Homo sapiens: one gene and its partner. The protein of the gene in region 2 interacts with the protein of the main gene of each other region in a biochemical or structural test. Each region holds a gene or a part of one and is shown on either strand. Other genes may lie near its edges.

Region 1 (3,751 bases), on a different chromosome or scaffold from region 2:
CCTGCAGCCATAGTCTCCTGGTTTCCCACCTGCTTGATTATAGCAAAGGTTGCGCCACCCTTGGCAAGCCAGTTCTGAGTTACTCCTAGTGGCCCAGCCCATCTCTTCTTTGGGTACATTTGTACGTACACATATTTTTGTAGATAAGGCCTTTCTAACTCGAAGTATTCCGATGTGGACAACAGCACCAGGGAAAAGGGCTCCAGACTGATTTCACAAAAATGACTCCCAAAACAATTTCATTTAACACTTAAAACACAGAGGTGCTTTTCCTGATTCATATTCCTAAATTGTACTTAGTACAGTCATGTATCATTTAACAGTAGGGATACATTATGAGAAATGTGTCACCAGGTGATTTTGTCATTGTGTGAACATTATGGAGTGTGTGTACTTACACAAACCATGATGGTATAGCTGACTGCACACCTAGGCTATATGGTATAGCCGATTGCTCCTAGGTTACAAACCTGTACAGCATTTTACTGTACTGAATACTGTAGACAACTGTAACACAATAGTAAGTATTTGTTATCTAAACATATCTAAATCTAGAAAAGGTACAACTTGGCTGGGCGCGGTGGCTCATGCCTATAATCCCAGCACTTTGGGAGGCTGAGGCGGCGGATCATCTGAGGTCGGAAGTTGGAGACCAGCCTGACCAACATGGAGAAACCCCGTCTCTACTAAAAATACAAAATTAGCTGGGCATGGTGGCATATGCCTGTAATCCCAGCTACTCAGGAGGCTGAGGCAGGAGAATTGCTTGAACCTGGGAGGTGGAGCTTGCGGTGAGCTGAGATCACGCCATTGCACTCCAGCTTGGGCAACAAGAACGAAACTCCGTCTCCAAAAAAAAAAAAAAAAAGTACACTTGTATAGAGCAGTTTCCATGAATGGGGCTTGCAGGACTGGGAGTTGCTCTGGGTGTGAATGGGTGGTGAGTGAATATGAAGGCCTAGGACATTACTATATGCTACTATAGACTTTATTCAATAATTTTCTTTCTTCAAACCTTTGCTTACTGTAACTTTATAACTACTTTTAACATCTTGACCCTTTTCTAATGACACGTAGCTTAAACATTGTACAGCTATACAAAAATATTTTCTTTATATCCTTATTCTATATGTTTTTTTGTATTTAGATTTTTATTTTTTATTTTTAACCTTTTGTTAGCTTAAATCACAGGCACACACATTAGCCTAGGCCTCCACGAGATTGGGATCATCAATATCACTGTCCTTCACCTCTGCATCCTGTCTCACTGGAAGGTCTTCAGGGGGAGTAACAAGCATGGAGCTGTCATTTCCTCTGGTAACAATGCCTTCTTCTGGAATACCCCTGAAGACCTGTCTGAGGCTGTTTTACAGTTAACTTTTTTATTTAAGTAGAAGTACTTTGTAAAATAATGATGAAAAGAATAGTATAGTAAATACATAAACCAGTAACATAGTCATTTATCATTATCAGGTATTATGTACTACTTATAATTGTACATGCTACATCTTTCTATTACTGGCAGCAGAATAGGTTTGTTTACACAGATGTGAGCTATGATACAGCTACAGTGTCACTAGGCAGTATTTTTCAGTTCCATTATAGTCTTATGAGGGCATTGTCGCTGTCGTATATGCAGTTCGTTGTTTACCGAAATGCTGTTATGCAATGCGTGACTGTATATTGTACATTAGGATAGATTTACCGTATTTCAACACAGTGTTGAAATCTGTACCCTAGTACATGAGCTCTGCCTAGTAGTCACTTAAACTATTGCTTTTAAAGTTACACAAATTTTTAAAAAATAGAAAAACTCAGTCCTGGGTAAACAATTGCTATTCCCACATTTTGGAATTCTGTAATTTACCTGAAACTCTTAATTAGGGTCACTACCTTCCTCTCTCAGTCACGGGCGTTTCACTTTTGGGTCTCTGTCATTCTTTGTTGCTCTCAGGATCTGTTGCAACCTTCTCCTGCTTCCCTCTTCAGCTGCCCAGGACCAGCGTAAATGATCCACTGTTGACTTTGAGACTAAATCTGTCTTCTGGCCCCTGTTCTCACTGTCCCTGTTATATCTTAACCTTCTTCCTGTATAACTAAGAGGTCAGGTCCTGGCATGGAATTAATAAGTTTATAAGCTGTTCTCAGTTTTCATCCCACTGCTCCCAAGTCCTCTCAAAGGACTCATCACACTGATCATTGCACTCATCACAGGCACCGCACTGATAACACCTTGACCAAGAATCAAATGGTCTGGATGCTGCTCTTCTACTAAACAAGCCCTATGATTTTTGTTGTTTCGTTTTTTGAGACTATGTTGTACACGCTTATCTCCAACTCTTGGGGTCAAGCGATCCTTCCACCTCTGCCTCCCGAGTAGCTGACACTGCAGGTGCACACCACTACACCTGGTTTAGATCTGTGATTTTGGAAAGATAGCACATCTGGGCCTATAGTATCTTCTTCTGAGAAATGAGAGTGTTAGACTGGATGCCAAGGCTTCATAGAGATCTAAAATGCAAAGTTATTAAAAATTCATTTCAGCTAATACTAAGTGAACTCCTGTGCCACAAACTGTGCTGGGTACTAGAGATACAAGGAAGAACCACTTACAGTCTCAATCCTCAGGATGGTTTAGAGCATGTTGGCGAGATAAAATTACAATTGGGGTAATAAATAGTACTTTGGAAAGGAAAGGAAAAGAGCAAGGGGTAAGGGTGTTCTATAACTTAATCTTCAGTGAGGATGGAGAGACTTCATCGGGGATGGAGAGCCAAGCACAGTGGCACATGCCTGTAATCCCAGCTACTCAGGAGGCTGAGGTGGGAGCATTACTTGAGCCCAGGAGTTCAAGACCAACCTGGGCAACATAGCCAGACCCCATCTCAAAAAAAAAAAAAATGCCTAGAGAGTTTTGTGCTGCTGGAAAATAGAATTTAAGGGGAAGGATGAATACTTCTTAATAGCTATTGAATCTGATTCCTGCTAACATGAGAGGTAGTCGCAGAAGAAACTGGCAGACATTAGATGATAAAAATGGTAAGGAGATTGCTTTTTGAACTGGCAGCAGTGACGTGTCACTGAAAGAACATTAACACAAAAATGACAAGATCCATATTTATACCAGTTATGGTGCAGAGGAGTCATTTTAGAGAGATGATAGTAATCCAAATTAAGGTAATCAACATGGGATGAGAAAAGGGGCAGATTGAATAGATACTGAGGAAGTTTGGTCAATAGTCTGGGTGACTTATTTGGGAGGAGGTTGAAGTGGGGTCATTTTTCTGATTTGTGCAATTGGGTGGATAGTGTGATACTGAGATAAGAATGTAGAAGATGAGAAGAATGTAGAAAAAGGAGCTGGGTTTGGGGGGAAAGATGAGTTTAATTTGGGGATATTTTGAATTTGAGGTGCCTGTGGGATGTCTATTTGGAGCTAGCCTGTAGACATTGGATTAGGGGAGAGATGCACATGCTACAGATACTGATAGGGTAACAGTTAGCAGTAATGGTAAGTGCAGCCATTGCAATGGTTGTCTGTAATGTGAGAAGACAAGATGAAGAATAGAACCCTGCAGATCACCCATGTTTAAGAGACAGGGCAGGTTAGAAGAAGGGGACCTTGCAAAGGAAACAAAAAAAAAATGCATAGGAAGACTATGGCAGTGAAGTATGATGAAAGCTAAGATAAAAGTTGTTTCAAAAGGACAGAGTAGTCAACAATGTCCAGTACTGTAGTAAAGTAAGGTAG
Region 2 (3,751 bases):
ACCACAGGCACACGCCACCACCCCTGGCTAATTTTTGTATTTTTGGTAGAGACAGGGTTTCACCATGTTGACCAGGCTGGTCTCAAACTCCTGACCTCAAGTGATCCGCCCTCCTCGGCCTCCCAGAGTGCTGGGATTACAGGCTTGAGCCACTACACCCGGCTTAAGCTTTGTTATTTATTTATTTATTTTGAGACAGAGTCTCATTCTGTGGCCCAGGCTGCGCAGTGGTGCGATCTCGGCTCACTGCAACCTCCGCCTCCTGGGTTCAAGCGATTCTCGTGCCTCAGCCGCCGAATAGCTGGGATTACAGGCGCGCGCCACCACACCCGGCTAATTTTTGTATTTTTAGTAGAGACGGGGTTTCACCACGTTGGCCAGGCTGGTCTCCAACTCCTGACTTCAGGTAATCCGCCCGCCTCGGCCTCCCAAAGTGCTGGGATTACAGGCGTGAGCCACCGCTCCCGGCCAGCTTTGTTCTTTAATGACCGGATAAAGCAGTCTACCTTTGGGTACGGAATTAAATTTAGGCAGAAGTGGCGGGGTGTGCCCCAACCCCTCCCACCCTGCAACTTAGGGGAGGGGTTCCCTCAACCTCTTTCCCACCCCAGGGAAACAGAGGAGGTAGAGAGCTGGGTTCACACGCGGCCCCACTTCTTTCCTGCGGGGTGACCCCGAATAGGTCACAGAAACTCTCTGGCCTCGTTTTTTCATAAAGTGAGAATGAGTGTGTCCCTAGGGCGGCTGAGAGGATATATAAGGAAAGAAGACTCAGGGTCTAGGCCCTTGGAAGGTGCAAAGAGAAGGACAGCTGGTTAGGCAGCAGCTGAGAGGGAGAAGCAGCCCGGGGGCTGGGCTCGGCTGGGGGTGCCTCCAGGACCCGGACAGAACCTACAGCGTCATTAAGAGCAGGAATCTGGGCGCGGCCCCAGCCTCTCCCCGGGGTCCTCAGGCTTGGGTGGGAGGTGAGGGGTAGGGGCCGACGCCAAGATCATCCCAGGGCACACACCTGGGTATCGCCCATCTCCACACCTTCTCAGCCCCCGACGGGCGCGTGAGGCCCAGAGAGGAGCAGCCCCGGGACCCGTCCCTCCCCTTGCCTGACCCTGGCTAGGAAAAGGGGCCTGGAGCGCCCCCGGGCTCCGGAAACGCGGGACCCTCCGCAGGCAGCCGAGCAGGGCGGCCGCCGGGGTCACCGCTGGGCGCCGCCGGAGCTTTAATTCGATCCATGTGCGGGACTCCGGCCTTTTGTGCGGGAGCTTCCGCCCTGCGCGCCGGGTCCCCGGCTCCCGCTCCCGGGCTGGGACTCGGCCCTCCGCCGGCCTCACTGAGCCCTCGCCCCGGACCTGCCGACTCCCCGACTCCGGGGAGAGAGACCAAGAGACTGGGACGCAAAGGGCGTGAGGACCGCACCCCCCACCCGCAGGCCCCTCCAGGGGCGCCGCGCCGGGGGTCCCGGCTGGCGACCGAGCAGGCTCCGGCCGAGCACTGCCGGCGCTGTCACCTGTGTGCACCGGGGACAGGGACGGAGGGACGCGACCCCCACCCACCCGGCCCGCTTACCTGGGCCGCCCGCGCCCCGGCGGCTCCGATCCGACGCCCGAGCCAGCGGAGCCCGGAGCCGCTGGGCCTCCCGTCCCCTCCGCCCGTCCGCCCTCCCCGCCCCCTCGGCTCCCTCCGCCCCGCCGCCCCGCGCCGCTTTACCATAAAAGGTGAGGCTCGGGGGGAGGGGGCGCGGGATTCCCGCCCCGCGGAAGCGGCCCCTACCTGCCCCCCAACCTGCCCGGCCGCGCCCCGCGCCGCCCCTTCCCCCTCCCTTTGTTCCCTGGACGACGCCTCCCCTCCCCCTTGGCACAGGCCAGGGGGTGGGAATGGGGGGGAATGGGGATGGGGGCGATGGGGGAATGGGAGGGATGGGGAGTGGGGGTAGGAGAATGGGGAGTCGGGGTGGGTTTCCTTCCCTCCCCGCTGCCCATCCCCTCGCGTTCTTCATGGACCCCGAGTGGTCCCTGCCGTCCCCCTTCCCTCGCTCTCCTGGGTTGGCAACCCCACCTACCCTGTCCGGCGGAGGTGAGCGCTTACTTTGGCTCTGGGATCCGCCAGGGTCTTGCGTCAAACCGACCAGGGTTCTGCGGCCGTTTACTAAGCGTGAGACCCGGAGCAGTCACGCCACCTCCTGAGCCTCAGTGTCTTCATCTGTAAAGTGGAGGTAGCCACTGCCTACCTCTCCAGGTTGGCCTGAGGATAAAAGGTGACAGTTACAGCCAGGACTGTGATTAATAGTGGTTAATATATGCTGGGTTGGGGGCTTTTTCCGGGAGTGTTCCTGAGGGTGGGGGTCTCGGAGACCCCCAGTGGAGCAGGTCACCTTGTTCTGCTCTCCTGAGCGGTAAGCCCTCTGCAGGTGGGTCCCGGTGTCCCGGGGGACAGGCCGCTCCAGGAGCTCTGGAAGGCAGGGCCCGGCTGGCCCTGTGGCTGAACCCCTCCCTCCACATCCAGTGACCCTCCCCCTCCCAGCTGGAGCAATTAGGACGGGAGCGGGAGGGGAGGCAGAGCCTGGACTCTGGGGCCCGGGATGGGGCCGGGATGGACTGCCTGGGTCCCTGGAGGCCTCAGGGACATTGTGGGGAAAGGAATCTGGGTCTGATTCAGAGGCAGACAGATTGTTCTTTTGATTAAAGCCACAGTGGCTGAGGCTTGAGGAGCGCTGGACCCAGCGCCATCTGCGGGGTGGCCAGACAGGATCTGGCCCGTCCTGCAACCCCTCAGCTACAGTCACCCCTCCAGGGTGGCTCTGGGGCTGTTTCTGAGGGAGGCTGGTTTATGAGGGTCAGAGGAGGCTGCCTCCGCCCTCACCCACTGATCATCGCCCCTCCCATCCCTCTTGTCGCCCCTTTTCCCATTTGATCCTCTCAGCCAAGCTGCAGTAACAGCAGCAGTCCCAGGAGCTGCCATTGATAGGGGCTTTCTAGGTGCTGGTACCCATCCTCATCCCCATCCTAATCCCACAAGAGCCATGAGCACCAGGGCTGATGATTCCTGTTCACGGTCAAGGACACTGAGGCCCCGAGAGGCTCAAGGCCACACTAGGGGCAAATGGCAGAGCCAAATTCAAACCAGAGCCGCTGTGTCCCTGGGCACACAGCTCTGCTAGTCTCAAGAACAGGTACCAGTGCCATCCTTTACAGAATCGGAAGCTGGGGCTTGGAGGTGCTGAGAGTTCTGTGCAGCAGGGCGAGGCTGGGACTCAAGGCTGTCTGAGTCCCTGCTCGGCTCATTCCTGGCTTGGCAGTGATATCCTGCCCCTGCCCCCCAAAACTCCAGCTTTGCAGCACCCTTTGGAGGAGACTTCCCCATACCCTCTGAACGACAGAGACGGGAAGGACTCAAAGGAGGAAGGTGCGATCTGGGGGTTTTCAGGCGCTTTTGGCTGTAGAACCCCTTTGCAAATGCTTAGTGACCCAGAAGTTTATTTAAGAGATAAAAGTGGAGCTGCCTGCCCTCACCTCCATGACAGCCCCTGAACCACCTGTTGCACCCCCAGGTGGGATAGTGAGGCAACGAAGAGTTGATTTGGGGCCTTGTTCAAGGTCACACTGACTTAGTCTAGGACCCAGGCTTCCCACATTTGCTCTGGGACAGTCCAAGGGGAATGAGGGGTTCAACTGCCTCTGCTTACCTGCCTCCAGCACCCCAGGCCACCTGTTCCACCGCCACCACTGCTCCCGGATGGAGGGATTCGTCCTGGCCC

The links. The genes of interacting proteins can lie anywhere in the genome.
Region 1: the proteins of FBLIM1 (region 2) and FERMT2 form a complex in vitro, tested with the Homo sapiens proteins (one study listed by BioGRID).

The regions. Positions count from the first base shown.
Region 1 is NC_000014.9:52,867,366-52,871,116, reverse strand, and holds part of FERMT2 (fermitin family homolog 2), read left to right. Parts: intron 1-3,751. UniProt on the Homo sapiens protein: Scaffolding protein that enhances integrin activation mediated by TLN1 and/or TLN2, but activates integrins only weakly by itself. Binds to membranes enriched in phosphoinositides.
Region 2 is NC_000001.11:15,756,661-15,760,411, reverse strand, and holds the start of FBLIM1 (filamin-binding LIM protein 1), read right to left. Parts: upstream 1,618-3,751; 5' UTR 1,564-1,617; intron 1-1,563. UniProt on the Homo sapiens protein: Serves as an anchoring site for cell-ECM adhesion proteins and filamin-containing actin filaments. Is implicated in cell shape modulation (spreading) and motility.